Linked DNA regions of Homo sapiens. The protein of the gene in region 2 interacts with the protein of the main gene of each other region in a pairwise test. Each region holds a gene or a part of one and is shown on either strand. Other genes may lie near its edges. The genes, in order: TAL2, PCBD2 and PHF14.

Region 1 (2,819 bases), on a different chromosome or scaffold from region 2:
TTATTTTGTTCACCTTTGATCAAATGCATCTCATTTTTCAAAACCATCTTTAAAATCTGTTCTGAGGGAAGCATATGCTGCTACTCATTCATCTGAGATCCATTATGAGAAAACTTTTTTTGTTATTGTTGTTTTTGAGAGCGAGTCTTGCTCCGTTGCCCAGGCTGGAGTGCAGTGGCATGATCTTGGGTCACTGCAACCTCCCCCTCCCGGGTTCAAGCGATTCTCGTGCCTCAGCCTCCTGAGTATCTGGGATTACAGGTGCGCACTACCACACCTGGCTCATTTTTGTATTTGTAGTAGAGACGGAGTTTCACCATGTTGGCCAGGCTGGTCTCAAACTCCTGACCTCAGGTGATCTGCCCATCTCAGCCTCCCAAAGTGCTGGGATTACAGGCGTGAGCCACCGTGCCCGGCCCATCAATCTTAAGATTTATTTTGTTCACCCTTGATCAAATCTCATTTTTCAAAACAAACTTTAAAATATGTTCTGAAGGAAGCATATTCTACTTATTCATCTGAGATCCATTATGAGAAAACTTCTTTCTTATAACTGAAGACATTGAGTATAAACAGTGATTTTCAGCCTTTTTTTTTTTTTATTTAGAATTTTTTCTCCAAAAGTCTTATGCAGAACCTGGATTTAAAATAGGCAGAGGTAGGCCGCTCTACCTGACATCCCTGGGGGGTGGCGGCCCACAAGTGACATTCCTCATGGCTTCTTTCAGCTCCCTGCAGCTGTCTCTGAGCCACCTCCCAGGAAGCTAGAATTCATGCTTCACGAGTTATCATCAGGTCAACTCTGGAACATGCAAAAGTCTGTCCACAGGCAGTGATTTCTGGGCAAGTGCTGCCCTGGGAGATGACAGCCAGAGCCACACTAAGGAATGTGGTGGCTTGGACCAGGTGAAGGAACCTGGTAGTTCTCAAGCAGAGTTCTGTCCTCCAGGCCTGGCAGGTGGGGTCCTTGAGGGAAGAGCCCCAGAATGTTCCCCTGAGCAGCCACTCCCGTTTGTTGCAGGCTTTGCTCCCCCAAGACCTTGACCAAGAAGTTGATATACCTCATTGCCAGGCGAAGCGTTTCATTTTTGCTCAGCTTTTTGTCTGGAGGGTGAGTGGGGATGAGCTTCCTCAGCTTGGCAAAGGCGCTGTTGACATTCTGCTGCCTCCACCGCTCCCTGGTATTTGTGAAGATCTTCCTGGTCATGTTTGAGTTCCTGAGATGGAAAGAGAAAGGGCCCTCAGGGCCAATATCTTATAAGAGGCCTGATTGGTATCACATGTCCTGCCAAGAACCTGAGATGTTAGATTTTCTCGACTCAGAGCTTACGAGATTCATTTCCTCATTTTCAGGTTTTTAAAAAAGAAAACAACCCCACAGGGACACAAACATATGCCTCTCACCTTTCGAGGCATCAGTGACGCTATGAATTATGCATAATTTCTTTTTTTAACTTAAAAACAACAGGGGAAGGTAAGAACAACACCCTTCAGCTTTTTCTCTCTGGCTGTTTTGAAGCCTCCAGTTGAAAGATTGCTTTGTCCCAATACTCCTGTTTCTTCCTTTATAACCAACTCTTCCTAATTGTTCAGAATCAGGTACAATATTGATTGAGTTTATGTATAAATGCAACATATGTTTGGCCAATAGAAAGTTTGTTTTTTGTTTTTTGTTTTTTTCTTTTTTTGAGATGGAGTCTCACTCTGTCACCCAGACTGGAGTGCCATGGCACCATCTCAGCTCACTGCAACCTCCAGCTCCCGGGTTTGAGCGATTCTCCTGCCTCAGTCTCCGGAGTAGCTGGGACTATAGGCGCCTGCCACCACGCCTGGCTAGTTTTTATATTTTTAGTAGAGATGGGGTTTCACCATGTTGGCCAGCCTGGTCTTAAACTCCTGATCTCAGGTGATCCACCCGCCTCGGCCTCCCAAAGTGCTGGGATTGCAAGCGTGAGTCACGATGCCCGGCCACCAACAGAGAGTTGAATATGAATCAACAATGTATTATCAGAATGAAGTAAAAAAAGAAAATGATTGTAGGTTTCGTTAATAAAATAAAATTTGGAATAGAGAAGACAATACAGCTCTCTTGTTAGCTGGCAGACCTCACCTGGAGGATTCAGCCCCTCTCTGTAAGAACTAAAATATCCAGACTGGACTATATTTAGAGGAGCAGGAACAGAATGATGAAGGGTCTTGAAACCCTGGTGTATGAAGAACAGAAGTGGGGGTATTTAGTCTCGCAAAAATGAAAAGACAAGGGGCAGGTGGGAGTGGTGATTTGGCGTGGATTCTGTAGAAGATACTTGGGCCTCTTTGGGGCTGCATTGGATGACCTTTCCAAGTCTAGGAGAGTGGTTTATCATCACATACTGCCGAGCATTATGCAGGCATTTTTCACTCTTAGAGGCAAGAGTCCCTTTTTTCAAGTGGCTTGGATTAACATGTGCTAATAGGAACACTTGGGAGGCACTGGCAAACAAGCCCAAGTCTAGCCCCAGGCAGTTTGATGTTCTTGGCTTACTGCTATTGGTCTGCTGCCTGCTCCACGCTCAGCTCCTCTGGGCACTGGGCCCTTTCTAGTTCCTCCGAAGACTCATGAATATTCCCAACTCTACACTTTCGCACATTGTCATTTTCTGTTCCTTGAATTTCCTCCCCACTCTCTACTTACCTATTTCTTTAAACAGCAGGTGAGATCTTCCCTTTCCAAGCCCTGACTCTACAGGAGTCTTCACGTAACTCAGCCATCAGTGGAACCATATGCATGGTGGTCAAGAGCACAGGCTCCAAGGCCAGAACCCCGGTTTGGCTGTTGG
Region 2 (3,166 bases):
GGGCATGGTGGCTCACACCTGTAATCTCAGCACTTTGGGAGGCCGGATCACCTGAGTTCAGGAGTTTGAGACCACCCTGGCCAACATGGTGAAACCCCGTATCTACTAAAAATATAAAAGTTACCCTGCACGCCTGTGATCCCAGCTACTCGGGAGGCTGAGGCAGCAGAATCGCTTGAACCCGGGAGGTGGAGGCTGCAGTGAGCTGAGATCGCAGCACTGCACTCCAGCCTGGGCAACAGAGCCAGACTCCAACTCAAAAAAAAAAAAAAAAAAAAAAAAAGCACATTTCTAAATTAGGGAAATGGGAGTAAAGGATGGAATGCTGTTTCTTGATGAACTGATTATAAAGTAAAAGCAAAATTACGAGCAAAGAGAAGCAAATAGCAAAGAAAAGTTTAGCCTGGTACCAAGGTGCTCTGAGTTATTCTATTAAGTCACGTGAGTATTGTGAAATTCTCTTTTTTCAAAGATTTTCACAGAGAAGACTTCATAGAAATCTAGATGATAAGACATTTCAAATGGCATGACCATAAAGGCAAGGACACTTTGGGAGGAACAAGGTTCTTCTCACTGTGTTCCCTCAAAACTTTTTAGTCTGTCCTTTGTCTTAAATAAGGTCATTTCCTACGCAGGATACAAAATTTAATAGTTTTCAAAGCACAGTTCTTGAGTAAAAATATTTCAACGAGATAAATGAGGCCATATCTATCTGATTTGCTACCATTTCTTTCAATAATTTACCTTAAGTTTTGAAACGTATCTGCATGGCTGATACTCCGGTTTAATTCAGGAGCCTCATTTGGCCCAACTTTCTCATATTAGCTTCAGTAGAAAGACAAGCATGAAAATAAAGAGCTTATTCACTGTTCTTAGGAGCAGACCTGAAAATGTGTTACTAATTTGCAATAATACACAGGGATTCTGAGAGAAAGGATAAGACTTTCTTAAGTACAATGACATTTAGCTGCACAAGATGACAAGGAAGAAAGAAGTTTCTTAAACTCCATAATTAAGGTGATTCCCAAATAAGGCAGTTTAGTTACCTTGTTGTATACATTGAACCATTCTGGGTGATGATTCATCTTCTCTGCTTGTAGGGCAACTCGGGACATAAAGCCAAATGCCTGCATAAGATGAAGTCAAGAGTAATTACTGACATTGTCCTCTACCCTAAGCCTGAGAGACACAACAGAGCAATCCAACCACATAAAGGCAGGCAAGGATCCTTAGGGAAGCCTGTGGAAATCAACTATGAAAGGACTGCTCTCTGCAGGCCTCTGGGGTCACAGTGCAGCAGGACTGTGACCTACTGCTGGATGGTGAAAAACTATCAGGCTCGAGTAAACAAACCAGGAAATTGGTCTCACCTAGTGACCCGTCTGGACTATTTAATTGTCCTCAGGACAAGACTCTACAAAATAGCACGGGAATAATTTCCCTTCAACCCAGTGCTCTGGGTCTCACTACCTGGCTCCAAATATTAGGAGCCACTTTTCTTGCAGCTCTGTTCCTTTTGTTTTTAGTGATTGGGTTGCTAACTAAGGCAACCCACAAGACTATGGAAAAAGGTCTCCTGAGGGTGTCTTAAGCAAAAGCACCAGCAGAAATGAACAACTTCTTCATCTCACCTCCCAGGCAGGACAGGAACAAATCAAAGACTATTGGCACCTAGAGTGAAACAGAAGCCCAGCTTGCCTGCTTGGGTTCTTCCTGCTACTGCCCTGCACTGCCATTTCAAGGTGACAGTGCACCCACCTCAGGGCAGAAGGCAAGCCAGGAAATGAGCAGAGGGCTGCAAACCAGTCACACGACTAAGTGTGGACTGACGGGGCTCTGTCTTTATACCACACGGGGAGTGGAAACAATTTTGTTAAGCAGAAGGTAAACTTGTCTTCAGAAGAAGGAAAAAACTCATTTTTTTGTTTGTTTTCAATTTTTTATGAAGGTAACTGCAAACAATAGGAGAGTCTGTCTCTATTGTTCCAGAATGCACAAATACTTGGTAAGACTCTTAGGGTAATGGCACATGAATTACAAAGTTAGAGTGGCATTCACAGGGCAATACCCATTACACCCACGTAAACAAATATTTAACTTCATTACCCCTATCCAGAAAAACCAATATGATGTTAGTCAAGCCATGTTTTTGGGATCACCAAATGACCTAAGTGTGTATTTCCTAGTTAACAGTGAGAAATACAGAAGATGCCATTTTAAACAATTCTATATCATTCACTATGGTACCTCTCTCGGAGCCAATTTTATTTGGGATAAAAGTTTCCATGTTGACATTTGAGGCCTGAAGGTTTTCCCTATAGGAAAAGGGAGAAAGTTCAAGCAAAATCCATTTGACCATGTATGGAATTATCTGTGGAAAAACAATATTCACTTTCCCAGCCCTTCTCATCTCATAATCTGATTGTCTAGATTATGTGAAGGGAAGGGACAAAAGCCTGTTTTTTATTTTTATAGAGACAGGGTCTCACTATGTTGCCCAGGCTGGTGGAATGCAGGGGCTGTTCACAGGCACAATCATAGATCACTGTAGCCTCAACCTCCTGAGCTCAAGGGATCACTCAAGGGATCCTCCTGCCTCAGCCTCCCAAGGAGCTGGGACTACAGGTGCATGCCACCATGCCCAGCCATGAAAGTCTGTTCTAATTATTCAAACATAGAGTTAACCCACATTAAACTACGTATAAGGAGAATTTCTACTCTGCCTATAATGCCTTATTCTTGTTTAGCATTAGAAGATGTACAATGCTAATCAACATCACTGATAGACAGCAATGCAATTGTTAAGGGCATGGCCTTTTGAGCCAGGGAGTCCTGGATTCAAATCCTGATTCTATCACTTAATTATCATGCAATTTAACTATCAGTCTCAGTTTTCTTTTTTCTTTTTGAGACAGAGTCTCACTCTGCTGCCCAGGCTGGAGTGCAGTGGGATTATCTTGGCTCACGGCAGCCTTTGCATCCCGGATTGAAGCGATTCTCCTCAGCATCCTGAGCAGCTGGGATTACAGGCACCTGCCACCACGCCTGGCTAATTTTTGTAGTTTTAGCAGAGACAGGGTTTCACTATCTTGGCCAGGCTGGTCTTGAACTCCTGACCTCATGATCCACCTGTCTCAGCCTCCCAAAGTGCTGGGAATATAGGCGT
Region 3 (3,659 bases), on a different chromosome or scaffold from region 2:
TGATCCTTGCCTATAAAAGAAATGTATTCAAATTTTAAAAGATAATAAAATGAAACATGTTCCTTAAGATTTTTACATTGATTTTTATTCCCATGTTCACAGAAAGATAATCAGAACTTCTCACACCAAAGCAAATTATAGGTATGAATGATCCTTAAGGTATACTGTATAATTTTTGAGTTACAATAAACTATATCTGCCCCTAGTAACAACTGTCCTAACTTATAATCAGAGTTTTGAGAAACTAATTAAGCTGAAGTTTCTCTTCTTAATAACTGCTATTGTCTCCATAGGTTTAATGTATATAAAATTATATTTTAAATATAGGCAAACTGACTAAATCCTTTGAACAAACTGAAACAAGATGTAATAAATATATTGCACTGATAGAGTAATTTCCTCACAGTCACATTTTTCAATGTGAAAATTTACTTTATAAAGGACTGCTCTGTTTGACTAAATGAGGAGTACTGTATTCAGCCAAAAATTATACTCACTATTTACCTTAATCACAATCCATTTCCTAGGTAACTAACCAAACTTCCTATTATACGTCACATGTCACTGGAAGCCACACGAGACGTAAAATCCTTACATAACCTTAAAACAAAAACATACGGGTTTTGACATGAATCCCATACCTGTGCTTCTGGTGATAGTTGCTTCTCTCTCTCTTGCAAAGACATTTTACAATAGGACTGTAGAGCCAAGTAGTTTTTTCTCTTCCACTTTCTGTCTAACCTATCTGCATGTTGCTTACAATAAGCAAAGAATGGATCTGCTATATCCTATACAAAGAAAGCACAGAAAAATAGTGAACATTTGTACTCCCAAGAGTCATAAAAGACCTAACACAAAAGAATATTACTTCCTTTTCAAAGAATCTACTAGTGCTAGTTACATCTAATAAATTACAAAAATAATTTTTGTACATAATGACAAAAATTACTTCTTTAGAAACTTGATCTTGTATGTCAACTTCAAATTACCAACAACGTTTTTCTTTAAAGGGCCTGCAGGTTTAAAGATATTGAAATCAAATATAATGTATTATTTGGGTGTACTTGTATAGTAGCCCTTCAATATCCATGGGGGACTGGTTCCAGGACCCCCCAAGGATACCAAAATCTGTGGATGCTCAAGCGTCTTATGTTAAATGGTGTGGTATTTGCATCTAGTTTACATGCATTCTCCCACATATTTTAAGCAGTCTCTACATTACTTATAATACCTAATACACAAATGTAAATGTGCAAATAGTTGTTACACTGTATTGGTTTTATATTTGTATTCTTTTTTATTACGCTTTTTTTTTTTCAAACATTTTCGATCTGCAGTTGGTTGAATCTAAGAATGTGTAATCCACAGACACGGAGGGCCGGCTGTATTTTTTTAAAAAGTCACTGTTTAAAACAAATAGGATTTTAATAATCTTAAGTAGAAATAATCATTAAATATTAAAGTTATGCATAAACTAATATTGCAAAACAACAACATTCAACTAGCCAACAAGATAAGTGTGGCATTTCTAACTGGCTAACAATGGACAGATTCTACTGAGGATAAAAATAGAATTAAGGGCCAGGCGTGGTGGCACATGCCTGTAATCCCAGCACTTTGGGAGACCGAGGCAAGCAGATCACTTGAGGTTGGGAGTTCGAGACTAGCCTGGCCAACACGGCAAAAGCCTGTCTCTACTAAAAGTACAAAAATTAGCCAGGCACAGTGGCATGTGCCTGTAATCCCAGCTACTCAGGAGGCTGAGGTAGGAGAATTGCTTGAATACAGGAGGGAGATGTTGTAATTAACCGAGATCGCGCCACTGCACTCCAGCCTGGGTGACAGAGCGACAGTCTGTCTCAAAAAAAAAAAAAAAAAAAAAAAAAAATAGAATTAAGAAATTCTAAGCCCTGTCAATAAAAAAATTTAAGTTATGCCCTTAACTCTTTCCCTAAAAACTCAAGTGGAATTACAGCTCTCTCATAGCCTAACAGTACATTTTCATTCATAAAAAGTAGTGTACAAAAAAGAATATTTATTCTATCAAAAACAACTTGTAAAGATGTAGTACAAAAAAGTAATTTACAATGTAATTGCTAACAAAACAACAGGCTGTTCATTCTTTATGTCTGTCCCAAAAAGGAACAGTAAACATAAGCTATTAGTTTTTCTCTAAGTTATGTCAAAAGTGTCTCTAAGTAGAGTTTTACAACCCAAAGAGAAATGACAACACTACCGAGGAGAGACATATAAGAACAGAAAGAAAAAAAAATCTAATGTGTCCTTAATATTAAAAAAAAAGCATATGAGGCAATTCTGTAGTGTGATATCTATAGATGTCACAGTACAGCAATGTGTATCACAGAATTTGAAGACATAAAAACCCGGATACAAATCTTGGCTCTATCATTTACAGGCTATGGGACTTCAAAAAATTGCTTAACATCTCTGGGCCTCAGTTACCACATTAGTAAAACAGGGTTTACTTACAATTACTTCATATAGCTTTAAAAATTAAATACAAAAATTAATTAGGAGACTACATTAACACATACAAACAGCTGCTTTCTCATGACATGCTCTAAATCTTGGTGACAGAGATGTTAAATGGAAATAAAGATTATACCGAACCTCAGCCCAAATACCCAGATCTAGATAATTATTCTAATGTTTCAAAGTAAATGAGGTTGAAATTGAGTCATTAGAGATAGGATTCATGCTTGCATAGGTGAGTTAAGCATTTGGACCAAGACTCTGACTTAAGAAAAACACCAATACTTACTATGGCAGAAACTACTAATTGTCTTACAATATCCATTCTTCCCATTAGTACTAGACCCCTATGAGTTTTTACTGGGCATATGGCTACCCTGCTAGAAACTATCTGATCCAGCCTCCCCACAGCTAGATGTGGCCATGTGATTAAGTTCTGGCCAATAAGTTGTATGAAATGCCCAGACCATGCCCTTGAAAGGAAGCTGCCTACTCTTAACCTCCTCTTTGCTACTTCCAATGAGGAAGAATCCAGTCAAGATGGTGATAAACCATCTTTGACTGTGTAGGAGAGTGCAATAGACTAAAGGAAGGTGAAGCAAGAAGAAAGAAGGGAACTGATCCCTGGAACCAAACTCCCCTCAGTATCCAATCCGCCTGGAATTGTATATTAGAGTGAATTCAACTTCTTCGTTTAAGCAACTCGTTACTTGGTTTTGTTAAACCAGTCAAAATAATGTCCTAATTAATGCATTGGTTGACATGGAATATCCCTTCAACCTGCTTGGAGAAATGGAGCTTTCAAGATCCTACTCCCAGTGGAAGACAGAAAGGGAAAAACATGTTTCTGAATATCTACCATGAAATAAGCACATGCGCTTTTGTATATACTATCTCTTTAACCTTCACCACTACCACATGAGGTGGGTTCTACCATTTTAATATCAATTTTATGGATAGAAAACTGAAAGCCAGAGAGGTTAAGTTGCTGAACCAAGACCTATGTCCAGTATGTAAGATCCATCTTCCTTAACCATTACCTGACTGTCATCAGATTCATTTAAGGAGATTTCTAAATAGAGGTAACTAGAGCCCAACTCTGCAAATTCTGACTTAGCAGAGCTGAGGCAAGGGCCTTAAATACAAATGCCTTGAGAAGCAGTAAT

The links.
Region 1: the proteins of PCBD2 (region 2) and TAL2 interact in a two-hybrid assay, tested with the Homo sapiens proteins (one large-scale study listed by BioGRID and IntAct).
Region 3: the proteins of PCBD2 (region 2) and PHF14 interact in a two-hybrid assay, tested with the Homo sapiens proteins (one large-scale study listed by BioGRID and IntAct).

The regions. Positions count from the first base shown.
Region 1 is NC_000009.12:105,660,885-105,663,703, reverse strand, and holds TAL2 (T-cell acute lymphocytic leukemia protein 2), read right to left. Parts: upstream 1,248-2,819; 5' UTR 1,208-1,247; coding exon 881-1,207; 3' UTR 580-880; downstream 1-579.
Region 2 is NC_000005.10:134,957,001-134,960,166, reverse strand, and holds part of PCBD2 (pterin-4-alpha-carbinolamine dehydratase 2), read right to left. Parts: intron 1,128-3,166; coding exon 1,047-1,127; intron 1-1,046.
Region 3 is NC_000007.14:11,032,769-11,036,427, reverse strand, and holds part of PHF14 (PHD finger protein 14), read right to left. Parts: intron 789-3,659; coding exon 642-788; intron 11-641; coding exon 1-10. UniProt on the Homo sapiens protein: Histone-binding protein. Binds preferentially to unmodified histone H3 but can also bind to a lesser extent to histone H3 trimethylated at 'Lys-9' (H3K9me3) as well as to histone H3 monomethylated at 'Lys-27' (H3K27ac) and trimethylated at 'Lys-27' (H3K27me3).